Homo sapiens: one gene and its partners. The protein of the gene in region 2 purifies or fractionates together with the protein of the main gene of each other region. This does not show direct contact. Each region holds a gene or a part of one and is shown on either strand. Other genes may lie near its edges.

Region 1 (8,023 bases), on a different chromosome or scaffold from region 2:
GAAATAATCTGGACCAAAGACTCAATCTCCCACCCCCACCCCCTGCAATTAGGACTTAATAAAAGGAGTCAGGAGTGCATTGTCCCAGTCCAGCAGAGATCTTTCCCTGGCCAATAATTATCTAATAATTAGGAGTGTTATTCCACCCTGGGGTGTGGGCCCAGCTTTGTGCTGAATGCCATGGCGGGGGCATCAGAAGAAGAGGGAAAAGCCCCAATTTTGCCTTCCAGAGCTCTGTTCTCTGAGGGATAAGACTTGTGTTCCCGAGATGGAGATGAGACGATGTTCAGTGGTGTAATGCTGACTATGGAGCTCAGAGAAAGAAACCAGCAAAGGCCAGGAAAGAACTACATGGGAGGAGAAGAATGGCACTGGCAACCGGCATCCAGGGAGCGCTTGCTGCAGGCTGCATGCTGAGGCGAATTTCCTCCACACCTTACTTCCTCTCATAACCATCCTGAGAGGTACTGGGATTGTCCTTCACTTAACAGGTGAAGAAACAGAGGCACAAAGAGCTCCAGTGACTTGCCTGTGGTCACATAGCTGGTAAATGCTGGCACCAGCATTTGACAACCAGAGCCTGAGCGTTAATCACTAGGTCCATGGTAGGACACCCAAAATGAAGGGGAGCAGCAAAGGTACAGACGGATGTGCAGAGAGCACAGCTGCCAGGGGGCTGGAGCGGCAGAGGGGACTTCAGCCATGTTATGAACTATAAATGGGAGCAGAGATAGGATGTGTGATTTGGCCAAGGTCCTGCAGCGCGATAGGGTGGAGGCTGGGCTAGAAATCATAGCTGTTGGCTCCTGTTTCCCTCTCCTTCCACTTTCCTTGGTACCAGCCACATTCTGGGCGCTCTCCACCCGTCTGCGTGGCCACGCCTGAATCGTTTCCCTCTTGGAAGAGGTGCAATCCACTGGCATTGAAGCTGGGTGGACTGGCTCCCTCTCTCTATCCATCTCTTTCTTCCTTTCCCCTGCCATGTTCTGGAAAGGGCAGCGGGAGGGAATGTGGGCAGGTTGCACCAGAGATATACATCTGAGAGCTGAAGGGAACATTTATTTTTAATTTAGACTTAAAAAGAAAAAAGGAAGTTATAAAATATCTGCTCTTGCTCCTGGGATTGTGCAGATGGTGCTGCGTTTTGCCTAATAGGGAATTGGGCTGGCATCCTCGTGCTTTTGGTCCCCGCCTGACTGTAAGGACCTGGAGGGCAGGATCCCTGCTTCCCTGCCTCAGCCTCACATGGCCCCCTAAGGCTCCATTTGGCCGATGCAGCTCGGTGTTCCTGTCTTCTAACCTCACCCTCTCCACACTCCCTCTGGTCTCCCAGACCTCCTCTGCAGTCAGACCAGTCTCTCTGCTGTCTCGGCTGTCCCTGCTCCTGTGTCGGCGCCCCCTCGGCTCACTCCTACCTCCGCCTTCGTTAGATAGCCGGGACACACTCACCCCTCCCTTCCTAAACTCCTGTTTGGATGTTAAAATTTATCAACTTTACACATAACCAAATACCTCATTAAACCATCTTGTCATTTTCAAGCCTCGGTGTTATAAAGGATGTCATCCTCCATTTTCTTGTCTGGTTTTTGTTTTTATTGTGGTTAAGGAGTGTGTGTGTGTGTGTGTGTGTGTGTGTGTGTGTGTGCGCGCGCACTCATTCCTCTCCTCTGGCTTTCTCCATTGGGAGCAGCAAGGAACTTGGTACGTAGAAGCAGCTCCTCATAAATGGATGCAGAGTGCTGATTGGATCTCCCCTCTCTCTGCGCTCAAGGGGATGAGCTGGAGAAGGAGTACCCTAAAATCAGAGTCCGGGCCCCCAAGCCAGGAACCAGGAGACCTGATTCTCTAGCTTGCTATGAAGCTATGGACAGATTACTGAATTTCTCTAAGCCTCAGTTGTCCCGTTTGCAAAATATCAAAAGTAATCTCTGCTTTGATCCCCAGGGTTAGTATGAGGATTATGATAAGTGAAATGCGTGGCAAAATCAAATCAGTCAATCCATCTCTTTAAGAAAGAATGAGGAGACTCATAGCAGTCAGAGGTGCCAGCATGGACTCCAGACCCATGTTAGGGTAGGAGGTTGGGATGCAAAGTGGGGATTGTCTAACAAAGTAAAAAGCTTGCTGGTCACAGAGCCATGGGCAGTGTGTATGTGTGTGGTACATAGCCCAAATACTAGTTTGGTTTGTTCTGGAAAAGACTTGATGTCACTTTTAAAAATGCTTGCCACTAAAGATAAATCAAGTGAAGATGAAAATGAGACAAAGGGAAGGTTAGGGAAGGGAAGATAAAATGAAGCCAGAAGTGAGGTTTGGGCACAGAATCCATGCAGTGTGGGTCTGTACACTTGGCAGATGGGGCTGTGGAGAGCTGGCCTGAGCTTCTGACGGTGCAAAGAGACTCAGTTGAATGGCTCAGTGTCTGCAAGGCACATGCACACCAGTTATTCAGAGGCACAGTTCCTGACCCTGAGACTGGAAAATATTTCCCCCAAGAGGATTATAAAGGGAACCCTGTGGTGTCACGGGCAGTGTCCTGGACAGCAGTTGTCTGGTAAATGCAGTGAGTGCTATTGGGCTGTATCTTACGATGTTCCTGGTGGTCCAAGTACAGTTCGAGGGGTAAGTGGGGATTCAGAGGAGAAGACAGTGTAGTCCATAAGACACCGTGTTCAGTAGACTCCAGATCAGGGGATGACGTGCTGGGCTCCAAACAGTGAACAGCCTTATTAACTTCCTCCGGTGGTAGAAGGCAGTCAGGCATGCATACGTGTACACATAGGAGCACATGTACTCTTCACCCACCCCCCTGTCCCATCCCCACCCCCGCTAGGCTCAGCTCCCTCCCTCTGGTCTGGCTTCTAACTGGGGGCCCCAACTACGAGGAGGTCCTCAGTTTCCTGGGATACTCCTTAGCAGATGGGATCCCATTACAGAAAAGACCGTCTCTGTTGACTTGACACCTACTACCCAGAATTTGGAAGTAGAATTTTAAACTGAGGTCAGCCCCTTCACTTTCATAGTTTAAGAAAGTTAGTGCCCCAAAGGGGATCATTTTCTGCCAGAGATCACATGGGGATGGAGCTGAATCTAAGACCCAGGTTCCCCTGATTCTCACTCTAATTCCCTAAGCTGCCACTGCAAAGAAAAAAAAAATCAAGTTGGGATCTCATTCTGGGGGAAAAATCTCATAATTCCTCGTTGGAGCTATGGAATAGCTTTATATTATATAATTTTATTCAAACTGATATGAGCCAATAAATATAGATTGTGTGTGTGTGTGTTAGCTGTTTTAAAACATTTTAATGTTTAAAACATGATTTACTAATGCTGCTGGGGATGTCTAGAATTTGATTTACTGCATATTATTGAGTGTTTATACTTGTTCCTTACAGAAATTCTTGCCAAAGAGCCATTTTATCTACAGGAATAATAAATAAGTCAATATGTGGATGGTTGTGCACATTTTTCCCATATGCAGTGGGACTTGGTAGATGTTACTTTGCACACAAACACTCAGAAGGTAAACTGGAGAGATGCACATGGATCCCTGAAGTCCAAGGCTTGGCCAGTGTCAAAATCAGACCATTCATCTTGACTTAAACCAAAAACACGGTCAGCAAGTCTAGGTCTTAGGTGATATTTGGGCTTTGGGAATAATGGATCTACATGTTCCCATACCTAGCCATATGTGTATATGTGTATATTTGTTCATTTCTTCATTCATTCCTTTCTTCACTCATTCAACAAATATTAGAAATCTATGTTTCATTCAGTTGCTTAAACCTGGTATAGGTTTTTGCTTCATGGAAATTCACAGATAACAGATACAAATTCCCCCAACTTGTATTTACAAAGCACTTAAGGCCTTTGAAATGATTTTTGTTTAATCCTCGCAAAAATCCTACGGGAAGGCTAGGGTGAGCAGTCAGGTAACCTGAGTGGAAACGAAGGTATTCCTTTTGTTTGCTTGTTTTTATTGCCCCCCTAATTGTGGAAATAATACATGTCTGTTGTTTAAAAGAATACAGAAATATTTAAGATTGTGCAAAAGTAATCTGCAACCCAACCTCCAGAGACATCCACACTACAGGTTTTTTCATGCTTGAAGATAATGTGTGTATGCATGTGTTTGTGTATATCGTTATATATAAAATGATTTTTCTTTAAATAAATAAGATTATGCTGTAATATAATTCTGCAACTTGGTTTTTTCCCATCACACAGCCTCTCCCTCAATGAACCTCAGTTTGTATGTACACGGCATACCACATCAGTTTGTACAGATCCAGCTCACTCATTTGTGGTAGCGTATTTTTTCTTTGCAAAAGCATAGGATGTTTCTTCTGCCTTTTTCAGCATTTCTTCTCTCTTGCTCATAGGTAGTCGGTCTTCTCTTGCCCAACCAGACACTGGCATCCACTGTCTTCTGGCAGGTAACAGTCTCGCAGCAAACAGGGCTCCTGAAGGAAGGGCCCACACAGGTGCTGGTTAAGAACTCCCTGCTGTGGTGTCTCCTGCCCCGTCCAGACCCCGTGTAGGGTCAGTCCACCCCAACACCACCCCTAGCCCAGAAGCCACTGAAGGAAAACCAGGACTTTGGCCCTGCTGAGCAGGTCTCCAGCAGCCCAGCATGTCTCAATCCACCATGTGTCACTCTAACCTTTGGACAGAGGTCATGAGGGCTGCGTGCCCCTGCCTGGAACATGCTGGCTTGTCAGTGGGGTGGCCCCCACTCTGCCCCTTGGCTGCTCATCCCAAGGCCAGTGACCCTGAGGCCCATAGCCTCATTTTGACATCAGCCTCCCCCACATCTGCTGAGGAAGCTAAATCCACCCCTAACCTGAGGTTGTGAAGTGCATCACAGACCCTGGTCCCTGCTCTTGGAGACAGTCTGGGTTGTGATGCCATGAAAACTGAGGATATCTCTGTGTTTGTGTGTGCAGAGAAAGACGGGCAGGAAGGAAAACCTGTCTGTCTTCTAGGAGAAAATGTCAGTCTTCCCTGAACTAAACTCCTGCCGGCCTCTGTGTCTGGGAACTGGAGGTGCAGGATACTGGACTGGGAGATTTTTGAAAGAATTGTAGGGCTGTCAGTCATTCTAGGCCAACTTTTGTCCAGCAGGTAATATAATAAAGATGGTGTGACAAAGGCAGTGGGGTCTGCAGGGGCAGTGAATGCCATCATTCCAAGAGAGGTGACTGTCTCAGGATCAGGTGGACTACTGGGGTGCGCAGGACCCCATTCAGGAACCGAGAGACTTCCCGAGAGGCAGGGCTTCCAGTGCTAACACCAGCACAGCCCTGGGCAAACCAGGACGGTCAGTCATGCTGACCGGCAGCATGGGCGGCACCATGTGAGCTGGAGACCGCATGCTGTGCCTTTCTGGGGATGTGTGGCCTCCTGGGGTCCAGGCCTGGCTTCCAGGGAGGTGACCACTCCTTCCCTGACTTCTCTCATCATTGCCTTTCAGTGGCTGAACCAGAGCCACAATGCCTGTGTCAACTATGCAAACCGCAATGCGACCAAGGTGAGCATCACTGCCCTCTCCCCAGTGGTGGGGTTCAGGCTAGGGAGGCCCAGTCATCCTCCCTACAGCGTGACATGCCACCATCAGTGGCTGCCTCTTGGTTAAGCATGGCCCTCCTCTAGATATCTTATTTAAAATGCCAGCCCTTCAGGTGGGTGGCCGACTCAGACATGACTCAGCTGAGGTCAGCTGCAGTTTCTGGGCCAGGAGCCCTCTGGGGAGGGGCTGTTTACATGAAGTGAAGAAGGCCCATTAAATGGGAGCAGTGCAAGGGATGAGTTCGGCTGGCTTTCAGATTCTTCTTGGGTAGCTCTTACATTTGGGTTTTGGATCATGATGGTATCAGCTACTTGGGGGCAAAATTCCCATAAAGCTTCCTCCAAAATTTCTGGAAGCTGCCTTAGCGCTCCCAGGTCCCGACTGCTGGCCACAAGCTGAAGGGCTGCTCCTGAGTGGGGAGGGTCCAGGGCTGGTAACTCCCCCCCAGAGCCCCTGCACTCCTTGGAGAGCTTGTGGTGGAGGCCCAGTCACCCTTCTGTTGTCCAGGAAGGGCTGCTGGGCCCCTGCTTTGCTGGCAAGGCCACCTCTCCCCAACTTCAATTCAAAGGCAAAGAAGGCAGGATGCATCTAAGTCCCCTTTGGGGGCCTGTCAGTTTGGGGTAGAGGAGAGTCCTAACATTTGCTCACCTTGGGGGAGAGGAGGGGAATAGGAGCTGGCCTGGGCCATAGGAATTGAGAGGCCTGATATGCTGTGGCTGCCCCCTGACATCTAAACCTCCACCCCAAGTCTCTCTCATAGGCTTCACATATGGCCATCTCTGCTTGGATGACTCCCTTTATCTTAAACCAGACACTTCTAGACCTGCAGTTGTAGCACAGGGCAAGTTCCTTAGCTTTTTCTTAATTGTCTGTGTTGGAACTTGGGGTATATTATTCTCTAGAGATATTGGGCAGCTATCATCTGTTGACATGGGAGCCCAGCTGTTCCATGGGCTGGCAAGGCCTGTGAGAGCCTTGACACTGGCATTTCCACCTAGAAAGCGCTCCAGATGCCAAATGGCCCCCTTGAAACATTTAGCCTCTAAACTGAAGACTGCTTGCCCCAGCCTTCAATGGTCCATGTTAGCCTTGCTGTTCTCCACCTCCACCCAGCACTGTCTGCCAGTGACCTTTCTAGAACAGGGCAGGAGTGAAGTGGGCCCTTCAGTATCTCCCTGGATACTGGTGATTTATATTTCTGCATTGGGAACTGAGCTGAGGGTGGCCTGATCCCTTTGAGTCCTGAGGGGCCTCTTCCTTCTACCCACTTTCCAGGCTGGTGGGCAGGATGCTTCTTGCTGGCTGGGACAGCTTACAAGGGGAAGTATGGGAGCTTTGGGCACCCAGCAGGCCTGAAATTCTGCCTCTGTTTTCCAGCCTTCACCTGCATCCAAGTTCATCCAGGGATACCTGGGAGCTGTCATCAGCGCCGTCTCCATTGCTGTGAGTACTCCCTCCCCTGCTCCTTCTTGGCTCTGCTGCTCTGGGGCCACCCCGCTCAGCATTGCAGGTGGATGCTTGTCTGAGGGCCAGGCCAGGCAAGGATTTGGGAGACAGGTTTCTGTGGGTGGAGGAGTCAGGACAGGCTTTCCAAGCCGAGAAGAGGCTCCAGTAGACAGAGCACAACCTGGTGCTCCCTGTAATGGAGAGCAGGTGGGGAGGTGAGGTTGTGCCTGGGGGCACTGAGGCAGGACATCTGTCTTGAGTGGGGCTGCGGTTGCCCAGCACTCTGCTCGGAAGAGCTGCTCCTCATGCTCGGTAACGTGGCTGGAGCGAGCGGGGTGGGGGGATGCCTCTGAATGACTCTGCAAGGCCTGCCCATGTGCCTGCTCCCCTGAGCTCTTGCTCAGCTGCCGGGGCACTGCTTTTCCCTCTCTATGGCCTTACTGGTGTCACACGTCCAGCTCTTCCTGAAGACCTGTCAGTGCCCGAAGCCAGGGGCGTTAGGCTCACTCTGAGTCTCCACAGTACTTTGAGGCCAGAGCAGCTACTCAGTAGGGGAGGTTCAGAGACTGAGCGTGAGGGTACGGCAGGTGTGGCTCCCTGCTTCCCAGAGGAGGCCAGGGGCAAGTGACACAGTCAGGGCCCTGGGCCAGAGCCAGAGTGGACGCTCAAGCTGCCAGGACCTTCTGCATGCTTGTCCCACCCCTGAGCCCGCCCCTGTACCTACGTCTGGCTGTCTCTGGATCCCCACTAGGATGGCCTTCTATAGCCGACTCCAGAGGGCGAAGGGCCCCTTCACAACTCTGTCATTTCATCCATTACACAATACATTAATGTAACTGGTAAGAAAAAAAAAATTAGAAAATGAAAACCAAACAACATTCACATAGCTGAGCACAGTGGGGCACACCTGTAGTCCCAGCTACTCAGGAGGCTGAGGTAGGAGGATCATTGAGCCCAGGTGTTGGAGTCTGTAGTGTGCTATGATTGCAGCTGTGAACAGCCACTGCA
Region 2 (7,753 bases):
TGCTCAGTCATTGATTTGATTTTATATATATATATACACACACACACACACACACACACACATATACATATATATATATTTTTTTGAGACATAGTCTTGCTCTGTCACTCAGGCTGGAATGCAGTGGCGTGATCTCACTGCAACCTCTGCCTCCCAGGTTCAAGCGATTCTCCTGCCTCAGCCTCCCGAGTACCTGGGACTACAGGCGCCCGCCACCACACCCGGCTAATTTTTGTATTTTTAGTAGAGATGGGGTTTCACCATGTTGGCCAGTCTGGTCTTGAACTCTTGACCTCGAGTGATCTGCCCGCCTCAGCCTCCCGAAGTGCTGGGATTACAGGCATGAGACGCCACACCCGTCCAGTCATCGATTTTAAAGTTGTAATGGCCAGTTTTAAGTCCAAATCTAAAGGTGTCCAATCCCAACAGCGGGCACAGAGGACCAGGTCTCCAAGGGGTGGAGAGAAGCGGGATCAGAAGGTGTGTATGAGGCCGGGCGCAGTGGCTCACGCCTATAATCCCAGCACTTTGGGAAGCTGAGGCAGGCAGATCACTTGAGGTCAGGAGTTCGAGATCAGCCTGACCGACATGGTGAAACCCCGTCTCTACTAAAAATACAAAAGTCAGCCGGGAATGGTGGCACATGCCTGTAATCCCAGCTCCTCCAGAGGCTGAGGAAGGAGAATCTGGGAGGCAGAGGTTTCAGTGAGCCAAGATCGCACCACTGCACTCCAGTCTGGGCGACAGAGCGAGACTCTGCCTTAAAAAAAAAAAAAAAAAAAAAAAAAAAAAAAAAGGTGTATGAGCTCCTGTGGCTGCTGTCACAAACCACTATAGGCCTGGTGGCATCAAACAACAGAAATTTATTCTCTGACAGTTCTAGCAGCCAGAAGTCTGACATCAAGGTGTCAGTAGGGCCATGTTCCCTCTAAAGGCTCTAAGAAATAATGCATCTCATGCCCCCCTCCTGATTTCTGGTTGTTGCTGGCAATCCTTGGGTTCTCCGACTCGTAGATGCATTGATCCAACCACTGCCTCTGTCTTCACGTGGCATCTTCCCCATGTGTTTCTCTGCATCTCTTCTCTACTTCATATGAGGAACCAGTCACTGGATTCATCCATCCTCCTCCAGTAATACCTCTTTTAATTTAACCAGTTACACCTGCAAAGACCCTATTTCCAAGTAAGCTCATGTTCTGAGGTTCTGGGTAGACATAAATTTTGGGGGGACACAACCCAATTCGAGAGCCTCCATTGTCAGGTGAGGAGGGGACGCTAGCATGCTCAGGATGATGGGAGCCATGGCAGGTGTGTGGGCCAAGGTTGGAGGCCATGTGGGGTCTGAATCATCCCCTCCCCAATCCCAGGAAGAAAATAAGAAAGAGGTGGGGCGCGGTGGCTCACCCCTGTAATCCCAGCCCTTTGGGAGGCCAAGGCAGGAGGATCACCTGAGATCAGGAGTTTGAGACCAGCCTGGCCAACATGGCAAAACCCCGTCTCTACAAAAATACAAAATTACAAAAATTACCTGGGCGTGGTGGCTTTCTATTATAGATTGAGAAAAACGGTAGGCTGGGCATGGTAGCTTACGCCTGTAACCCAGCACTTTGGGAGGCCGAGGCAGGTGGATCACTTGAGGTCAGGAGTTCGAGACCAGCCTGACCAACATGGTGAAACCCTGTCTCTACTAAAAATACAAAAAGTTGGCTGGGCATGGTGGTGGGCACCTACAATCCCAGCTACTCAAGAGGCTGAGGCAGGAGAATCACTTGAGCCTGGGAGGCAGAGGTTGCAGTGAGCCGAGATCACACCACTGCACTCCAGCCTGGGTGACAGAGCATGACCCTGTCTCAAAAAAAAAAAAAAAAAAAAAAGAGAGAGAGAAAAACCCAGCCTTATTTGGGGGGAGCCGTCAGGGCTGCAGCGTCTAATACTGGGGACGGTTGAAGCAAGGGGCTGGATTTAAAAAATGACCTCCCGGAGGCAGGGCCTCCCCATAGGGTAGGGTATTGTAGTCCTGAACTCATTTGCATACAAGGCAATCCAGCCAATCAGAGCCCAAGGCCATGGGCCCGTTGTCTGGGTTTGGCCCATCCTGAGGTTCCATCCCAGGGTGTCAGTCCCGCGGCTGGCCCTGTCCTCAGAGGTTTGTCTCCTGCTGGTCTCGACCACCATCATGTCCAACACAGGGGGTCCAAGAGCCAGCCCCCTCCAGCTCCTTCTGCCCCAAGAAAAACAGACGATCCTCATTGGTGGGCAGGAAGCCAGGGGGCTTCTTGTTTCCAGTGGGGAGTTCTTCAGGACCCTGGGGAAAAGTGGGAAAAAGAGACCCCATCAGAGACCCTGTCCCCACCCTGTTCCGTGTCAGCTCATCTCCCAGATGGGCTACTGATGACCTGGCGGGACGGGGCGTGCACAGAATTGCATACTATCCCCTTGCTCAGTGCACGGGCCAGTCCTGCCCGCTCTGCCTCCAAAATTTCCATGCGCTTCTCTTCCCCACTCACATGTCACCTACAGCCCAGGCCATCAACGCTTTCTCAGATGCCTGCTATAGTTCCTCCCTCCTTTCTCTGCTTCTCTGCCTGTTCACCTTCAAGAAAATAAATATTTCTGGCCGGGCACGGTGGCTCACCCCTGTAATCCTAGCACTTTGGGAGGCCAAGGTGGGCAGATCACTTGAGCCCAGGAGTTTAAGACCAGCCTGGCCAATATGGCAAAACCCCATCTCTACCAAAAATAAAAAAATTAACCAGACTCGGTGGTGCATGCCTATAATCCCAGCTACTCAGGAGGTTGAAAGATGGGAGAATTTCTCGGACCATGGAGGTTGGGGCTGCAGTGAGCCATGGTCATGCCACTACACTCCAGCCTGGGCAATAGAGTGAGTCCCTATCTCAAAAAAAGGAAAAAAAAAAAAGACAAAAAAGAAAAAAAACACACAAATAAAACAAAGACAACAAAAAAGAAAAATAAAATAATAAAGAACAAAAAAAGAGAGAGAAAGAAAAAAAAGAAAAGAAGAGAAAGGAAAAGAAAAGAGGAAAGAAAGAAAAGATAAACACTTCTCTAGGGCAGCTGGAGGGAGCTTTAAACACCTTCAGGCAAACCCCTCCCCTCCCAATCCCCTTCTCAGTCAAAGCTGTTCCTGTCTGTGGCTGGTTCCTCTTCTCCTAACTCAGGGTCAATCAATGTCACCTCTCCCAAGAGGCCACCCCTGACTTCCCTGGCTAAAGTTGCTCCCCATCACAGCATCCGGTTTTATTATCCTTTGAATATTTATCATGCTGAGACCCTACACGTTTTTCTTTTTAGCTTGCTCTCTCTCTCTCTCTCTCTCTCTCTCTCTCTCTCTCTCTCTCTCTGTCTTTTCTTTCTTTCTGACAGTGTCTGGCTGTTGTTGCCCAGGCTGGAGTGCAATGGCACAATCTCTGCTCTCTGCAACCTCCACCTCCTGAGTTCAATCGATTCTCCTGCCTCAGCCTTCCGAATAGCTGGAATTATAGGCATGCACCACCACACCCGGCTAATTTTTTGTATTTTTAGTAGAGATGGGGTTTCACCATGTTGGCCAGGGTGGTCTCGAACTCCTGACCTCAGGTGATGCACCTGCCTAAGTCTCCCAAAGTGCTGGGATTACAGGGGTGAGCCATCACGCCTGGCTCTTTCCTTTCCTTCCTTCTTTTCCCTCCCTCCCTCCCTTCCTGCTTTCCTATCTTTTTGACGAAGTCTTGCTCTGTCACCCAGGCTGGAATGCAGTGGCGCGATCTCAGCTCACTACAACCTCTACCTCCCGGGTTCAATTGTTCAATTCTTCTGCCTCATTCCACTGAGTAGCTGGGATTACAGGCACACGCCACCATGCCCGGCTAATTTTTGTATTTTTAGTAGAGACAGGGTTTTGCCATGTTCGACAGGCTGGTCTTGAACTCCTGGCCTCAAGCGATCCACCTCAACCTCCCAAAGTGCTGGGATTACAGGCGTGAGCTACCGTGCCCGGCCTGACAGCATCTGGTTGTATTATCTTTTGAATGCTTATCACATACTGAGACAGACCCTACATGTTTCTCTTTTTAGTTTTCACCTGCCCCTGCTAGATGAGGGTGGGGTGGGGGTCTTAGACCATAGCCCAGAGCAGGACTGGGTACACAGCAGGTGCTCAATAAATGAGAGAATGGAACAGGGATTCCAAAACAGGGGTAGGCATGGGATCAGGTCCCCCAGGGACAGCATTTTCCAAACTCTGGGAATTCACAAAGCAACCACGCGGTTTTAGCCAAAATCGGTTTACCATCTGTTGTGTTTCTTATGTAAGATTTTTTCCCCAAGTTGACTCACTTTTGAATTAAGTAATTTTATTTTAAGAAGAGACTTTACATCAATACCCTAACAGCACACCAGTTTCACCTGCCAAAGATTGGAAGTCACTGTAAAAACAGATAACGACAAAAAGGAATAGTATTCAACTTTGTTCAGTCCTTATGAAGGGAGATAACAAAAACTTGAAGATGAGGCTGGGCTCGGTGGCTCATGCCTGTCATCCCAGCACTTTGGGGGTCTAAGGTGGGTGGATCATTTGAGGTCAGGAGTTCGAGACCAGCCTGGGCAACATGGTGAAACCCCATCTCTACTAAAAACATAAAAATTAGCTGGGTGCGGTGGCATGCGCCTGTAGTAGCAACTACTCAGGAGGCTGAGGCAGGAGAATCGCTTGAACTCGGGATGTGGAGGTTGCAGTGAGCCGAGATTGCACCACTGCACTCCAGCCTGGGCAACAGAGCGAGACTCTGTCTCAAAAAACAAACAAACAAAAAGGAATAGTATTAAACTCTGTTCAGTCCTTGTGAAGGGAGATAAAAACTGTTGAGGATGAATCAGCTCCCAATAGAGTCTTTTGACTGGAGATAATGAGCGATGGAGAAAGGTGCTGATATACCATGTCCCTCCCCTGAGCTGTGGTCACGTCCTAAAGTCACTTGGCTGCCTCTAGATCTGGGAACCCAGCCTAAGACTGACCTTGACCAAGTTGTCATCCAGGATGGCCACTTCTTCCTTGGGGGCCACTGATGCTGTCTGCCGTGCGAGGTCCCACCACAACAATCCCGGGGCCAGGGTGCTGCGCTTGGTGGGGCCTGAGAGGCGGGGAGAAATGGAGAAATCCAGGCATTCAGTGAAGGGGTCATGGGGGTTGGAGACCAGGTCCTGGGAAGGAGAAAGGAGATCCCTGGTCTATGAAGTCTAACAGGCTCCAGTCCCACTAAGGGACCCTGGCAAGCCTCTGAGCCTCAGTTTCCTCATCTACACAGTGAAGTTGTAATAAAACATCAGTGAGGCCAGGTATGGTGGCTCATAATTGCACTTTGGGAGTCTAAGGCAATAGGATTGCTTAGAGTTGCCCAGTAGTTGGAGACCAGCCTAGGCAACATAGCAAGAACCCATCTCTACAAAATATTAAAAAATTAGCCAGGCATGGTGGTGTGTGCCTCTAGTCTCAGCTACTTGGGAGGCTGAGGCAGGAGGATTGCTTGAGCCCAAGAGGTCGAGGCTGCAGTGAGCCGTCATTGTGCCACTGCACTCCAGCTTGGTGACAGAGTGAGACCCTGTTTCTAAAACAAAACAAAACAAAACAAAACAAAAACATCATTGGAGGTTGGGCACGGTGGCTCACGCCTGTAGTCCCAGCACTTTGGAAGACCAAGGCAGGGGATCACTTGACGTCAGGAGTTCGAGACTAGTCTGGCCAACATGGCGAAACCCCATTTCTACTAAAAATACAAAAATTAGCCAGGCGTGGGGGTGGGCGCTTGTAATCCCAGCTACTCGGGAGGCTGAGGTAAGAGAATTGCTTGAACCCGGGAGTCAGAGGTTGCAGTGAGCCAACATCGCACCATTGCACTCCAGCCTGGGCGACCAGAGTGAAACTCCATCTCAAAAAAACAAAACAAAACAAAACAAAGACATTAATGGATGGCTGGGAGGGTCCAGCACACGGTTCCATTCACTGCTGCATCCCCAGTGCCTAAAATAGCGTCCAGCACAGAGGAGGACTCGATAAAGGCCTGATGACTGTGAAGTCTGAGACTCAAGAAGTGTGAGCAGGTACTGTTATCACTACTGACTTTCCCCTCTTTGTCTCCTTCTACTTTTCCGTGGAATTTAGAATTCCCTAACAAGTGCGGAGTCACCGGCAGCTTTAGAAGATATTTCAGCACCAGGGATAGCGCCGCCCGCCCCAACCCATATCCTCTACTGAGGACTTAATCTTGTTGGGGAGAGGAGTTGCAGGCAATGCCTCCGTTTCTGCCTCTGCAAAATAGGGCAAGCTCTGAGAGGTGCAGGGTTGTCAAGAAAGCAACATAGCTTTAAAGGGTGTAAATGTGAGCCGGGCACGTTGGCGCGCACCTGTAGTCTCAGCTACTCGGGAGGATGAGGTGGGAGGATTGCTTTCAGCTCAGGAGTTCAAGGTTGCAGTGAGCCATGATTGTGCCACTGCACTCCAGTCTGGGTAACAGTGAGACCTGTCTCTTTTCTTTCTCTCTCTCTTTCTCTCCTTCTCTCTCTCTCTCTTTCTCTTTCCTTCCTTCCTTCCTTCCTTCCTTCCTTCTTTCTTTCTTTCTTTTAGATGGAGTCTCACTCTCTTGCCCAGGCTGGAGTGCAGTGACGCAATCTTGGCTCACTGCAACCTCCATCTCCCAGGATCAAGCGATTCCCTTACCTCAGCCTCCCAAGTAGCTGGCATTACAGGCGCCTGCCACCATGCCCAGCTAATTTTTTTGTATTTTTAGTAGAGACGGGGTTTCACCATGTTGGCCGGGCTGGTCTTGAACTCCTGACCTCAGGTGATCCACCCGCCTCGGCCTCCCAAAGTGCTGGGATAACAGGCATGAGCCACTACGCCCAGTCGACCCCGTCCCTTTAAAAGAAACTATATATATATACACTTTCTTTTATGTATATATATAGTCATAATTTTTATATATATTCATAATTTCTTTTATGTATATATACACATAAAAGTGTGTATGTATGTGTATATATACACACACACTTCTTTTTTCCTCACAAACTTTTTTTTTCCTTTTAAAAAAATAGGTACAGCCCAGGTGCAGTGGCTCACACCTATAATCCCAGAACTTTGCGAGGCCGAGGTGGGCGGATCACTTGAGCCCAGGAGTTCGAGACACATGGCGAAACTCCGTCTCTACTAAAAATGCAAAATTAGCCAAGCATGGCGGCACACACTTGTAATCCCAGCTACTCGGGAGGCTGTGACATGAGAATCGCTTGAATCTGGGAGGTGGAGGTTGCAATGAACTGAGATCACACCACTGCACTCCAGCCTGGGTGACAGAGTGAGACTCTATCTCAAAAATGATGATGATGATGATGATGATGATGATAATAATAATAATAATAATAATAATAATAAGGTACAAATGTGTACAGCACACAGTGGCAGTTTGGCCAATGGGAGCGTCCTTTCTCCCCTCCCTGCTGGGTGGAGCCTTGAGGCAGAGAGATGAATGGGATGACCTCTGAGGCCACATGCTCTGTTTACCTACCTGTCAGGCAGCTGATGAGGGCTCCGCACAGCACAGTGGTCAGCGTGCCCAGGGCACCGTAATAGAGATAGGAGATGGCATAGAAGCTGTCAGCTAAGGCGGGTCGGCTGGCGTCCATTCCTGAGCTGCAGGTTGGGAGAGACAGACTTGAACCTCCTCTTTTATCCCCTGCCTGCACTCAAAAGCTGTTC
Region 3 (8,591 bases), on a different chromosome or scaffold from region 2:
GAGACCAGCCTGACCGATATAGTGGAACCCTGACTCTACTGAAAATTCAAAAAAATTGGCCAGGCGTGGTGGTGCATGACTGCAGTCCCAGCTACTCGGGAGGCTGAAGCAGGAGAATCACTTGAACTTGGGAGATGGAGGCTGCAGTGAGCTGAGATCGCGCCATTGCACTCCAGCCTGGGTGACAGAGCGAGACTCTGTATCAAAAAAAAAAAAAAAAAATGACAGTGTAGACTAGGGTTTCTCAACCTCAGCACTACTGACATATTGACATTGGAGCTGCACAACTGTTGTGGGGGGCTATCCTACGCACTACAGGCTATTGAGCAGCATCCCTGGCCTCTACCCACTAGATACCAGTAACACTCCCCACAACAGGTTCTAACACCCAAAAAACGTCTCCAGTCATTGCTAAATGCTCCAGGGGCAGGAAGAGGCAATATTACCATAGGTTAAGAACCACTGAGTAGAGTCAGCCTTGGTGTTTATCCTTACCATTCAAAGAGTTCTGAATACAAAGTAACCAACCAGTCACAGAAACACTTTGCTGAGTAGATTCATGTATGACTCAGGGTAAAGTTATGACCTGAGTTTTCCAGTCTCCTTATAAAATATCATATTCTCCAAAGGGCAAGAGCAACACACCCAAAACAGAGGCATACCATTTTCATGCCTTGTTCTTGCTGGCAGTCTTTAAGGTTTCTAACTGACAAAGCCAGAGAAAACATCATCACAGGCAAGAGTAAGTATACTAAGACCTTAGCCAACTCTAGAACTGCTGGGTGTGGTTCCTTCTGGTGGTGGAGGGGTGGGTGCTTTTATATACCGTTTTGTCTTAAGGCAGTGATTGTGCCAGTAGATACACTGCAATACGCTTAAGGCTGTTTCAGTGAAAATACTATTTAAATCTAATTAACCAGAATACTGGGCAAATTTTATATTTGTCTGTTGTAGAAAATCTTTTCGCCATAGCACAGAAGGCTGAACAAAACCATATTTTTTGTTGTTGACTAAGGATTGTGTAATGCTTCATAGGTTTACAAAAATTATCTATGACTAAATGGTACTGAAGATTCAGAAAATCCAAGGAGAGGGCTGAATCTGAAAATGATGCCAGGCTATATCACAAGTGGAGGAAAAAAACCTTTTTAATGGAATGAGCTCAGTAACACTTTTGTATCTCTTTCCTAAGAATAAGAATGCCACCAAAGGTTTGAATTAGCTGTGTTCCTTTTTTTTTTTTTTTTTTTTTTTTGAGACAAGGTCTCACTCTGTTGCCTAGGCTGGAGTGCAGTGGCAAGAACAAGGCTCACTGCAGAAAAAAGAAAAAAAAAAAGGCTCACTGCAGCCAACTTCCTGGGCTCACTCCATCCTCTCACCTCAGCCTCCTGAGTAGCCAGAACTACAGGCCTGCAACACCACGTTGGCTAACTTTTTTTTAATTTTTTTTTGGGTGGGGGGGGGCGTCTCACCATGTTGGCCAGGCTGGTCTTGAACTCCTGACCTCAGGTGATCCACCTGCCTCAGCCTCCCAAAATGCTGGGATTACAGGAGTAAACCACAGCTCCCGGCCAAGTAAGGATTTCCTAATTAGCGCCTACTATACCAGGAAAGCCTGTCTTCTAATCTGTTAACATACTTCAGCTGTGAAATATATCTAAGGTGTTCTGACAATCGAAATACCACGCAACTGGGCCAGGCGCCGTGGCTCACACCTGCAATCCCAGCACTTTGGGAGGCCGAGCTAGGAGGATCACCTGAGGTCAGGAGTTCAAGATCAGCCTGGCAAACATGGTGAAACCCCGTCTCTACTAAAAATACAAAAATTACCCAGGCGCGGTGGAGGGCGCCTGTAATCCCAGCTACCTGGGAGGCTGCGGCAGGAGAATCGCTTGAACCTGGGAGGCGGAGGTTGCAGTGAGCAGAGATCGCGCCATTGCACTCCACCCTGGGCGAGAGAGCAAGACTCCTTCTCACCAGAAGAAAAAAAAAGAAAAGAAAAAGAAAATTAAGCTAGTACACAACACCACATCTATCCCGTTACTTCTATTTCATGAATTCTACTACAATGAGGTAGTAAACTGTAGCTAATACAATAATGGGCCGGGCACGATGGCTCACGCCTGTAATCCCAGTACTTGGGAGGCCGAGGAGAGGAGGGTGGTTCACCTGAGGTCAGGAGTTCGAGACCAGCCTGGCCAACGTGGTGAAACCCCGTTTCTACTAAAAATACAAAAAATTAGCTGGGCCTGGTGGCGGATGTCTATAATCCCAGCTACTCGGGAGGCTGACGCAGGAGAATCATTTGAACCCAGGAGGCGGAGGGTGCAGTGAGCCGAGACTGCGCCACTGTACTCCAGTTTAGGTAGCAAAAACGAAACTCCGTCTCAAAAAAAAATAGCCGCGCATGGTGGAGAGCGCCTGTAATCCCAGCTACCCGGGAGGATGAGGCAGAAGAATTGCTTGAACCCAGGAAGCGGAGGTTGCAATCAGCCGAGATCGCGCCATTGCACTCCAGCCTGGGTGACCAGAGCAAAACTCCGTCTCAAAAAATAATAATAAAACAATGTGCTGGACTACTGCAATACTGAGATCCTTCTCAGCCAAGTGTTTACAGGTGTTAGAGCGGCAACAGGAATTTCTGGAGTACAAGCTAATCTCTGTGGGAATGGAAAAAAAAAAGCACTAATTTGAATTTCAGTACCTATGTTGCAATGCTAAATTCTTGACAGGGATTAGTACTCCGTAGGTTATGCTTCTTAAATCTCCAAAAGTAAGCCAATATGTGAAATCGTACATTTTTGGTCCGTTATTCTAAGACTGACAAAACGTTCCATTGCTTCGTATTTGAATTTGAGAACTGAGACTCATTTAAAAATTCTTCACTGTTCTTTTCCTTTTTGCTCTTCGATTTCGCAAGTGAAACGGTCATTTCAACAGCACACACATTACACTAGAATAAAGCCAAGTAAAATGACAGACTAAATCAGATCCGTGAATACACGGTGACTCCTTATTTGGTTTTTAATACTTTCACTATGTTTCATGTCTTCGGGAAAGCAAAAGAACAACGTACTGTGCCAAAAGCACTAACTTACGAAAAACCAATTTAGACCAATTCTTTACAGCGTTAAGTATGGGTTGAAAACCAACTTTCCTAATACTTGTGGTCAGTGCCTCAAGGTCGTTAGGATAAAAATAAAGCTTCCAAGACACTTCGCAGCCTTCCAGCACTTCCAGAAAGGCCAAATAAACCAGCATTCACCTTCCCGCTCCATCCAGGCCCCGATTCTCCGACCAGAGAGGGCGCTGAGTGCCCGGGCACGGAGGGGCAGCGCCCTGGGGCGCCCGGCTCTGCCCAGGGCGGGGCTCGGCGGGGCCGAAGCTCCGGACGCCGCCCACGGGGACCACCGGCCCTTGGGCCGCCCAGGGGCAGCTGCAGCCCAGGGGAGGAGCTGGAGGAGCCCCCGGCGGCACCAGGGCCCGAGCCCTGACGGCGGCCGCCCCCGGCCGAAAAGTAAGGAAGGTGCCGCCCTCGCTGGACCAGCTGGGCCCGAAGAGGGGCCCCCCCACCACAAATTCGGAAACCGAGTGACCCCGGCGAGGGACGCGCGGTCCCAGCCCCGGGACGAGGAAGGGCGGCGGCGCGGGCGGGGGTTCTTTTCAGAACTACAGCAGGGAAGGCGGCGGGGGTGGCCGCGGGGCGATCCAGGGAAAATCGGCGCCTCACCTGCTCCTCTTGAGGCAGCTGCTGCCACTCGCTGAGGGGACAACATGGAGCCTCCGCCTTCAAAGCAGAAGCAGCAGGGGTGCAGAGGAGAGGGACGGGTGCGGGCGGGAACGAACCGGGCCCTGGAAGCGGGAAACGGGCGGAGCCTGGGCTCTAGAAAAAACTAGCCAGAAGGTGGGGCACGCGGAGCCGCGACGGAGCGAGCGCAGCGCGGTCTGCGTGGCCCAACGGACAGCCCGAGGCGTGGCGAGCGCAGGACGAGGCTAGGCGAGGCGGGGCGGGAAAGCGCACGCGGCAGAATCCCGCCACCGCCTGCCGCGTGTGCGCGAAGCGAGCCGCCGGGTACCTGTTGGCGGGGCGCTGAGTGCTACCGTCCTTTGGGAATTGTAGTCCCGCGCTCACTGGGTCCCGGCCAGCGGTCCTCATACTGCGCACTCATCTGGGGCGGGGCTTGGCGTGGTTCTCCGACGACTGAACTACAACTCCCAGCAGGCTGTGCGGGAAGGGGCGGGCTGGCTCGGGTCCTCCTGCGAGCTGCGGCCGGCGCCTAACGTGCAGACCAGGCCCCAGGCCGAGGCTTTATCCTGGAACCACCAGTGTGAGAGACAGCTTTGGTGTTTAACTAGGCCTGGGACCACAGGTGGGCAGAAGAGAGGCCTCAACCCTGGATGGCATGAACGTCACTGGGTCTTTAATGATTTTGACTTCATAAGGGCAGGTGGCCGTGACTTCATTACCACCTTTATTATCATCTCCCTATATTCCTGTCCCTGGCCATGGCTGATGCGCACCATCACCGCTCTGATAGCTAATGTAAGAAGTCCAGGCCGGGCGCCGTGCCTCACGCCTGTAATCCCAGCACTTTGGGAGGCCGAGGCGGGTGGATCACCTGAGGTCGTGGGCGTTCGAGACCAGCCTGACCAACATGGAGAATCCCCGTCTCTACTAAAAATACGAAATTAGCCAGGCGTAGTGGCGCACGCTTGTAATCCCAGCTAGTCCAGAGGCTGAACAGGAGAATCGCTTGAACCCAGGAGGCGGAGGTTGCAGTGAGCCGAGATCGCACCATTGCACACCAGCGTAGGCAACAGGAGCAAAACTCCATCAAAAAAAAAAAAAAAAAACTTGCACGCACATCCCAGCATTCTCTGCTCCTTTTCCCTGCATTACTTTTCTCCAAAAGACTTCATACCACTTGGCCAGGCGCGGTGGCTCACGCCTGTAATCCCAGCACTTTGGGAGGCTGAGGTGGTTGGATCACCTGAGGTCGGGAGTTCAAGACCAGCCAGGCTAACATGGTGAAACCCCATCTCTTCTAAAAATACAAAAAATTAACCAGGCGTGGTGGCAGGCGCCTGTAATCCCAGCTACTCGGGAGGCTGAGGCAGGAGAGGTTGCATTGAGTGGAGATGGCACCACTGCACTCCAGCCTGGGAGAAAGAGCAAGACTCCATCTCAAAAAAAAAAAAAAAAAAAAAGACTTCCTGCTACTATCTGACTTATGTTTTACCTTTCATTGTGTTTGTCTCTTCCCACTGAATGTAAGTTCCAAACAGATAGGAATTTTTGTCTGTTTTGTTTACTTGTATATCCCCAGTCCCTAAATACTGCTGGCAGATAATAGAGACTCAAATATCTATTGAATTAATGGATGAAGAAGATATATGTTACATCTAACACTGCTCACTCACTTTCTGGTTCCTTTAATATTAAATACCTAACTTTTACTATTGAACAAAATACCCTAGTTTATTTTAAGGGCTCCCCAGAGATTCACTGAAATCCAACTTCTCAGGAAGTGACCAGCAAATACTGATATATGTCTCAATATTACATCATCAAGGTATCAAGGTCAATGTTAGCACATCAGCATTGTAGCCCTTGTAGAAGCTTTTGGCATTTGGAACAAAACAGTACAAATTATAGGTGGACTTAAGGATTAGTCACAACTTAGAAAGCAACCCCTGTAAATGAGAAACATGTTTTGTGTTATTTCCTTCTCAAATATCCAGGGTCATCAAAACACTGGACATTGAAAGTGCCAAATATTGACAATACTGGTTACAGCCTGCCTTCAGCTATCTCACTCTGAATTGAGTTATGTGCTATGATCAGAGGTTGAGCTTCCCTTGAGGTTTTCCAGAAGTAGGTGACATGTAGACATATTTGAGTGGACAGACTACTGGCTTTGGGGTCAGACTTACCTGGCTCTGATGTTCACTAGCTATGCAACCTTGGGCGAGCTACTTAACCTCTCTGAATCCATTTCATCATCTGCAAAATGATTTAAAGACCCACACGGTTGTTCTAGGCTAAGTGAGCTGTGTGTTTGGAAATGATGACTGCGTGGTTAGTGATCAAAATTAGTAATCAGCATATTCATTCTGGAAAAGCAAAATAAAGTCATAAATATTCAAGATACTCAAGTGGTTTATGAAACACAAAAATAGCAAAATTGTTTTCTGCAATGGCATCCACCATGACTCAGGTTCCAAAGCTTTCCAAAAATAGGTCATTTGTTATATGCCAGGTACCGTGATAGGCCATAATGCTGCATAAGACACATTCCTATCCTCCAGAGACTCGCAGTCCTGTGGGATAGACAGCTGAGGAAATATCATTCACTGTGACTGTACTGGGACACAGTTCAGCTTTCTGCCCTCTATGTGCAGGATCATTATTTAAGCAACTTGGAAGGGACAAGTTGGAATACTACATCCCTGGGCATCATTTAAATTTCCATACCTTATTTTGCATGTGTGTAAAATGGGGTAATGATTTGGCATCTTCATTTGTAAAAAGAAAATAGCCAACCCCACTTGATAGGGTCTTATAAAGTTGAATATTAGGTCCTCAACATGGTAACATACTGAAAGCTTAAGACCTTGTCAGCTACTTCATTATTGGTATTTCAGCCAACAGCACAGCGGTCTAACTGGGAGGATCTCTTGAGCCCAGGAGTTCAAGACCAGTCTGGGGGCTGGGGGCAGTGGCTCACACCTGTAATCCCTACACTTTGGGAGGCCGAGGCAGGTGGATCACCTGAGGTCAGGAGTTGGAGACCAGCCTGGCCAACATGGTGAAATCCCGTCTGTACTAAAAATACAAAAACTTAGCCAAGAGTGGTGGCAGGCACCTGTAATCCCAGCTACTCCAGAGGCTGAGGCAGGAGAATCTCTTGAACCCGGGAGGCAGTGGTTGCAGCGAGCTGAGATCCTGCCATTGCATCCAGCCTGGGCAATAAGAGCAAAATTCTGTCACAAACAAACAAACAAACAAAACGGTCTGGGCAACATAGGGAGATCCCATGTCTACCAAAAATAAACAAATAAATTAGCCAGGTATGGTGGGGTACCTGTGGTCCCAGCTACTTGGGAGGCTGAGGTGGGAGGATTGCTTGAGCCTAGGAGGTAGAGGATGCAGTGAGCCATAATTGTAGCACTGCATTACAGCCTGAGCAACAGAGCAAACCCTACCTCCAAAAAAAGAAAGAAAGAAAGAAAGAAAGTGGGGGCGGGGGACAGCGCACAGTGGCTCATGCCTGTAATCCCAGCACTTTGGGAGTCTGAAGCATATGGATCACTTAAGGTCACAAGTTCAAGACCAGCCTGGCCAACACAGTGAAACACTGTCTCTACTAAAAATACAAAAATTAGCCAGGCATGGTGGTGTATGCTTGTAATCCCAGCAACCTGGGAGGCCGAGGCAGGAGTATGGCTTGAACCCAGGAGGCAGAGGTTGCAGTGAGCCAAGATCATGCCACCACTGCATTCCAGCCTGGGTGACAGAGCGACTCCACTAAAAAAAAAAAAAAAAAGGCAGTGGGGATGAGGATACAGATTTGCTATATTCACCTTTGCTTATGTTTGCCACAGGAATATCCTAATAGTGGCCAGGCTCGGTGGCTCACGCCTGTAATCCCAGCATTTTGGGAGGCCGAGGCAGGCAGATCACGAGGTCAGGAGATCGAGACCATCCTGGCTAACACGGTGAAACCCCGTCTCTACTAAAAATACAAAAAATTAGCTGGGCGTGGTGGCGGGTGCCTGTAGTCCCAGCTACTTGGGAGGCTGAGGCAGGAGAATGGCGTGAACCCAGGAGGCAGAGCTTGCAGTGAGCTGAGATCGCAGCATTGCACTCCAGCCTGGGCGACACAGCAAGACTCCATTTCAAAAAAAAAAAAAAGAGAAAATCCTAATAGTAGCTACCTATATGTGTGTAGAGGAGTGGAGGGAGTTAGTGATAAAACTTTACAATATATATATTCCTGAATATTTGTGTACGTATATATGAATGATCTGTGACTACATATCAAATTTTTTTTTGAGATAGAGTTTCACTCTGTCGCCCAGGCTGGAGTGCAGTGGCGCAATCTTGGCTCACTGCAACTTTTGCTTCCCAGATTGAAGCGAGTCTCCTGCCTCAGCCTTCTGAGTAGCTGGGACAACAGGCATGTGCCACCAGGCTCGGCTAATTTTTTTGTATTTTTAGTAGAGACAGGGTTTCACGATGTTAGGCAGGCTGTTCTCCAACTCCTGACCTCAGGCAGTCTGGCTACCTCGGCCTCCCAAAGTGCTGGGATTACAGGTGTGAGCCACTGCGCCCGCCCTTCAAATGTCTTAATTTAAAATATATAATTTTTAAAAATTTAAAAATAAAATAAAATATATAATTTTTTCTAAAAGTCAAGAAAATATAGGGTAATTAGATGGCTTAGAAGTTAAACTGGGAAATTATCTGTATAGGCCGAGCACAGTGGCTCAAGCCTGTAATCCCAGCACTTTGGGAGGCTGAGGTGGGCCAATCACCAGAGGTCAGGAGTTCAAGAACAGCCTGGCCAACATGGTGAAACCCCATCTCT
Region 4 (6,559 bases), on a different chromosome or scaffold from region 2:
AGGTGACCCACCCGCCTTGGCCTCCCAAAGTGCTGAGATTCCGTGAGCCACCGCAGTCTGATGTGCTTTTTAAAAATGACAACTCCAATTTTGTAGGCTGCATTTAAAAATACAGTAAGAATAAGGCTGGGCAAGGTGGCTCATGCCTGTAATCCCAATAATTTGGGAGACAAAGGTAGGAGGATCGCTTGAGGTCAGGAGTTCAAGACCAGCCTGGACAACATAGTGAGACCCCATCTCTACAAAATAACAATTCACTGGGTGTGTTGGTACCCGCCTGTGATTTCCAGCTACTTAGGAGGCTGAGGCAGGAAGACTGCTTGAGCCCAGGAGTTCAAGGCTGCAGTGAGCTGTGGTTGTGCCACTGTACTCCAGCCTAGGAACACTGACTCTTTAAAATAAAAATTTAAAAAGATGAGCATTTAACTATTGTATTGGCAGGTGGCTGAGTCCATCACATACCATTTATATAATTAAATGTTCACATGACACCAGAATCTGTTTTGCAACAAAAAACAAAAATAAGACATGGTCCCTGGTCTGAAGGCTTCCAATCTGAAAGGTAATAAGACACAGGCAATGAAACTATAGGGCTATAAAACTATATTTAAAAAAATTTTTGGCCGGGCGCAGTGGCTCATGCCTGTAATCCCAGCACTTTGGGAGGCCGAGGCGGGCGGATCACGAGGTCAGGAGATCGAGACCATCCTGGCTAACACCGTGAAACCCCATCTCTACTAAAAATACAAAACATTAGCCGGGCGTGGTGGCAGGTGCCTGTAGTCCCAGCTACTCGGGAAGCTGAGGCAGGAGAATGGCGTGAACCCAGGAGGCAGAGTTTGCAGTGAGCCGAGATTGCCACTGCACTGCAGCCTGGGCAACAGTGCAAGACTGTCTCAAAAAAAAAAAATTTATTTTTGCATGAAAAATTTCCAGGACTTTGGTGATAAGCAGCGAAATCAATGCCTTAAGTAGATTTTGAAATGGTATATTAAAAAATGGTACTCATTTGGATACTGTAAGAAAATACTGATTAGGTTTCTGGGATATAATGGACAAATGATTCTCAACTCATGGCAAGAAGATTCCTCCCTGGGTATCAGAATAATTTGAGGTGGAACAAAGAGGCTATGAAGTTTCAGAACAAGGTGGTATTTTCTGCTCTTGCTTTAATTTCCTTTATTGTAAAAATTCAGTTAACATCAAAGAGAGTGTCTTTTTTTTTTTTTAAGGAAGAATGCTTTAAAAAGAGATAAGAGCAGTGCCAACATGAAAACCAAAAAAAAAAAAAAAAACAGTGCAACGGGGTGCCAAAAAAAAGGGGGAAAACATCTGAAATAAGGGGGAAGAGTCAAAGGTAAAAATCACAAAGCAATGGAATAATTAAAAAGATAACAAAAGGTTAACTAGGCAAGTTAGACCAGGGGAAGACTTAATATGAAATTTGTCCTAGGATAAATTATTAAAATATTTAAAGATATAATCTAAAGCTCCTACTGAAATAGAAGATAAATTTAAAACAATTTTGATTAAAAAGAGAAAATATACTGTAAAATATTTATTTAATAAAAATAATTTTATAATCTATACAGAATTGAATAAAAAGTACAACAAATTATTTTCACTTATTTACAAAACTGCATACAGTACAACTTGCACATTGAGTTCAGCATTCTATAAATATGGCCACATACCAAGATGTGAACATATTCTTGTCTTATATAAGAAAAGGCTCAGGTTGTATGCCACAAACTTTGAATTAAATTCCAGGGAAATATTGCTTTGGTAACATGAACAATTTGTACCACATTCCATTAAAAAAAGATTTAATAAAATCCCTCAAACAGCACTTTTCTACTTGTTTCGGAGTACACAATTCCCAAATTAGCACAAACAAAACAAAGCAAAAAAAGAAAAACAGACAGAATGTAAAATGAAGGTTGCTACTTTTATGATATCACTTCCCTTTCCCTTCCTTAGCTAGTGTTCTTTTCCTTTCCCTTAATAGTAAAGGATGGTGAATAGAAAATGACCTATTCTTATCCCCATCCATTTGCTTCTAGGATTCCTGCTTAAACCAAATGAGTATGTCGACTTTGCAATCTTGACACACTATTATTAACACTGTTCAGCTGTGTCATTCTAAAAAAGTTAATACCCCAGTTAAAAGCACCTATCTAGATTCTTTTCAAGATAAGGCAACAAAGTCAGCTTTAAAATAGTTTTCATGTCTGACATATACTAGCAGCCCCTTGGTAGACTGATTTCAGAATTAAATGCATATAGAACATTTTTTCAAGTAACTTGGTAATGAAATCACTAGCAATTTTAAGCAAATATTCAAGATGATCTACCTTTAGAAACAAAGGCAGATTTAAGGTAAAAAAATGCAGGAATCACATCTATCCTAGTTCCTGTCCCATTGAAATAATTGAAAAGAGGCTCAGTTTATGAAAAAGGCCTTGGACTAATGCAATTCCTATTGACATCTTTACTTGGATAAGAAAAACAAATTAATATAAAAACTATAAATAGGGATGAAATTATTAAAAAAAGATTTTTCATTTTATTTTGGAAATAAAAGGGAATACAAATACAAATGGCCTAGTTACATCTTTAGCCTATATATGAACTTTTAATCTTGGAATTAATAGTCCTTCATATTGAAGATTTAAAGACAAGCAAGCGTACCTTAAGCTTTCTTAAGTCTCTTCATTTAGCAGGCTTCAAAACTTGCCTTATTTTCTAACTAAATGAGCTTCTCTGGGAAGCATATGAATAATGCAAAAACGTACTTCTAAACAAATTTTACAGAAATAAATAATCGTCACAATGGGAACCAAGAACATTCATATGATGAATTTTTTTAAAATAACTTAAAATTAGAAATGATACGTACACCTTAAAATACAGAACACTAAACCAGAACAAATATTGCCAGTGATAGAATAACTATGTAGAAAGACCAATGTACATGAGTAACACAGAAATAAGAATTAAATTGAATAGAGGCAGATGCTGTTAGAACATATTTCCATCCATCATGACTTGCAACATTTTGTGGCCTCTGTGGAGCCCTGGTCCCACCAGGCCAAGCATCTGGCTAAGTAGATACAGACATATGTGACCTATAAAACACCAAACTCACTTGCTAATGAAGTATACAACACCATGTGCTGCTTTGATTGCTCTTGACTGGTTTTTAAAATCAAGTTCACTTTTGAATCAGAAAAAAAGTCATCCTTAAATTAGCTCTCATAAATAATCCATGAAATAAACTTTACTTCTGGCTCCTCTGAATAGTATCATGTTATTCCCGGAACACAAGGTATTAGTCAAGTGGCTGCTGTGAAGTCAAGAAATGCACATTCATAAATATATGTCTACGCTTTAAAAAATCAAACACATCCAGGCAGTTGCTGTGCAGAGTTCTTGCTATAAGAAGAAGCCCTTCAGCAGTATATTATGAAGTGGTTACTTGAGAACTTGATTGTGGATCTTCCAGCTTTCTACATTTCTTCATAACACTGACTGCACCACTGGCCAGGAAAACCACAGCGATGAGTGCAAAATAACTGGCATAGATCAAAAACTAGAAGGGGGAAAAGCAGTTTATTGAATTATCAATGACAAGAGGATTACTCTATAATAAAGTATATTCAGAATTTGTCCATAAAGCCTCAAAAAATATTGCATACTTACACCACGTGCCAGACCCTGAAGACACAAAGCAGCATCACAGCACGGTGGTACTAAATAAAGCCTGACTGCCTGAGTGTGAATCCTGACTTCATCCCTTACAAGCTGCGTGAACTTGATTGAGATACTTCATCTCTGAGCCCTTCTTCACTTACAAAATGGAATTCATAGTAGTTCTCACTTTACAGCGATGTTGGTACCCATCAGTGAGATCATAAATGCTTATTAGCACAATGCTAATGCTGTTAGTATTACTTTTATTGTTGTTGCTGTTATTGTTATAATTCAGTCCTGGTCTCTGCCTTCAAGCTGATAGGTGGGTACAAATAGGCCAAATTCTGAAGATCAAGAACTTCTCTATTTTTCCCCAGAAGAGGGCAGCGGCAGGTCAACTATATTCCATTACAGGATTACTTAATGTAAGAATTCTTCCCTAAGACAATTTTTTTTTTTTAAGTTCTGGGGTACATGTGCAGAATGTGCAGATTTGTTATATAGGTATACGTGTGCCATGGTGGTTTGCTGCACCTATCAACCCATCATCTAGGTTTTAAGCCCTGCATACATTAGGTATTTGTCCTAATGCTCTCCCTTCCCTTGCCTCCCACCCCCCAACAGGCCCCAATGTGTGTTGTTCCCCTCCCTGTGTCCATGTGTTCTCATTGTCCAACACCGACTTATGAGTGAGAACATGCAGTGTTTGGTTTTCTGTTCCTGTGTTAGTTTGCGGCGGATGATGCCCTAAGCGAAATTTTAATGTGACTATATGGTTTATTAACATCATCATCATCATCATCTTCTTAAAATAACATACTAAATACTTACAAACTGGTTCAAAAGTACAATGAGAGTATGGCCTTAAATCACTGAGCCAGTTTCTTTCAATGTTGGCTACACTTCTGCAGGAAGCCATTAATCAATCATGGCAGTTAGGGTTTCAGCACCACCCATAAAATCCTATTATTCCACGTGTTTAAATCCACCATTTCTATAAGAATCTGCTGACAAATTTCCACTTCCAATGACAGCCATGTTTCCCTCAACTGTAATAGTCCTGGGAACTCTCCCTTATACAGGGAGGATGGCAAGCACTTAAGTTTCTCTCCTACTTTCCATCCTGAAATAAGTTTTGGGGTTAGATGTTGGTTTAACTCTAAGCTCTGGAACACTACTAGTGATGGTATGGACAAGTCACTTAACATCTCTCAGACTCATCTTCTTCATGTCTAATACAGCAACCCTACAAATCCTATATAAAGCACTTGACACGTAGAGGCACTCAATGCACATTGTCTATTATTACTATTTCTCTCTTAGATCGCTTCAGTAAAAACAAAGTTAATTACGGCTAATATGTTGGGAAGAAATCATTTGGGTTGGGATGGGGGTGGGAGTAAATACTTCTTGATTCATTCAGTTGCCCATTTTACCAAAGTACAAAACAAGATATACTTAAAACTCACAATGCATGAAGGCATATACAACTATACAATTCCTGAACGTAAAAAGTATTCACATTGTTGTTGGGTGTTGGTGCAAGTTTCTCAATAGTCATAAGTTACAAATCATAATGTTGTTCATCAGCAGCAAGGCATTACCGTGGTATTTGGGTGAGGGGTGTTTTAAATAAAGAAGGGAGGAGACTTAAAGAGTTGTGAGATGAAGCAGGGAATCTCAAACATGGGATACAGTATTCCAAGCATAGATTTAAGTATAGAGGGAAATAATGGATGAGGAAGCAGAAGGTCTTGGTCTGTAAGGAATCAATATTACCTCTCAGCTGAAACAGCCCCATTGGGCTGATGAGTTACACTCGGGAATGTTCTAAGACCTGACAATCCCAACACCCTCCCAGGAGAAAAGAACTAAGGATAGGGGAGAAGATGTTGAATGAAGGAAGGAGGGTATGCTTTTACTTTACATCTGTTCCCTATTGTTTGGATTTGTTTTCATTAAGCATACATATACTTCTGTCACCCTGATCAAGTCACACATACTACCTTCGATGCCAAAGGAGAGATCTTACCTGAGTGGTAATTTCTAATCCAAGGCCACTGGCATCTACCACAATTAGAGTGAGCAGCGTCTGCAGTGCCAGGGCAATGAAGGTATTTACACCAAATACTAGGGCATAGCGTTCCATGCTGAGGTTTGCAGCAATTTGAAAACTTAAAAAAAAATAAAAGAGTGAATAAATAAGAATTACTTCTGGAGTACTTATAATATTTATTCTAAATAAAAGTAAACATTTATCTTTAAACATGAAGAGTCCTTCTTTCTACTGTCAATTGCCTTTCCAACCAAATGAAAACATTCTGCAACTAAATGATATAAATCTCATGCAAACATCTGAAAACAGTAGGAACATACAAACATGGGAATAAACAAAACTTGCCTAAATGCTTCCTCAGGAGAAAAACTGATAATGCACATATAATACAATGCTTCCTCCCATTTGCCTCATTTAACTAGAAACTTGAATATTTTGGTTTGTAAAGAAACCAAAAAATTTATCCTGTTACAATTTTTCCTAAGGCTTCTATGAGCCAAAATACATACGTTGCTATCGTGATGAGTAACATGTAGATGATTCTGAAGACAACATAGGATGCATAGCACACCCAAATGTTACCCACAGTGTCCATGATATACACTGCAGCAGCAATCAGGAGAGAAAAGAGAGATAATGTCATTTCTCCCCAAGTTGACCAGGATATTTTTATATAACCAACTGCAAACACAGCAACAGCACCTACAGAACAAACAAAAAAAATCCAATTATTTTGCTACACAAATGCTGTTGCAATAAATTAAAAACTCAGCTTAGATTATTAAATTTTAAAATCTGCAAACTTATAAA

The links.
Region 1: the proteins of SLC5A5 (region 2) and SFXN5 purify together in Homo sapiens (affinity purification with mass spectrometry; 2 studies listed by BioGRID and IntAct, with this or other methods). This does not show direct contact.
Region 3: the proteins of SLC5A5 (region 2) and ATL3 purify together in Homo sapiens (affinity purification with mass spectrometry; 2 studies listed by BioGRID and IntAct, with this or other methods). This does not show direct contact.
Region 4: the proteins of SLC5A5 (region 2) and SLC19A2 purify together in Homo sapiens (affinity purification with mass spectrometry; 2 studies listed by BioGRID and IntAct, with this or other methods). This does not show direct contact.

Annotation. Positions count from the first base shown.
Region 1 is NC_000002.12:72,997,938-73,005,960, reverse strand, and holds part of SFXN5 (sideroflexin-5), read left to right. Parts: intron 1-230; exon of another isoform or gene 231-1,570; intron 1,571-4,382; coding exon 4,383-4,436; intron 4,437-5,473; coding exon 5,474-5,530; intron 5,531-6,946; coding exon 6,947-7,012; intron 7,013-8,023. UniProt on the Homo sapiens protein: Mitochondrial amino-acid transporter. Transports citrate. Does not act as a serine transporter: not able to mediate transport of serine into mitochondria.
Region 2 is NC_000019.10:17,888,265-17,896,017, reverse strand, and holds the end of SLC5A5 (sodium/iodide cotransporter), read right to left. Parts: intron 7,688-7,753; coding exon 7,563-7,687; intron 5,133-7,562; coding exon 5,017-5,132; intron 2,306-5,016; coding exon 2,141-2,305; 3' UTR 844-2,140; downstream 1-843. UniProt on the Homo sapiens protein: Sodium:iodide symporter that mediates the transport of iodide into the thyroid gland. Can also mediate the transport of chlorate, thiocynate, nitrate and selenocynate.
Region 3 is NC_000011.10:63,667,560-63,676,150, forward strand, and holds the start of ATL3 (atlastin-3), read right to left. Parts: upstream 3,777-8,591; coding exon 3,731-3,776; intron 1-3,730. UniProt on the Homo sapiens protein: Atlastin-3 (ATL3) is a membrane-anchored GTPase that mediates the GTP-dependent fusion of endoplasmic reticulum (ER) membranes, maintaining the continuous ER network. It facilitates the formation of three-way junctions where ER tubules intersect.
Region 4 is NC_000001.11:169,462,386-169,468,944, forward strand, and holds the end of SLC19A2 (thiamine transporter 1), read right to left. Parts: intron 6,452-6,559; coding exon 6,259-6,451; intron 5,868-6,258; coding exon 5,726-5,867; intron 3,593-5,725; coding exon 3,464-3,592; 3' UTR 1,524-3,463; downstream 1-1,523. UniProt on the Homo sapiens protein: High-affinity transporter for the intake of thiamine. Mediates H(+)-dependent pyridoxine transport.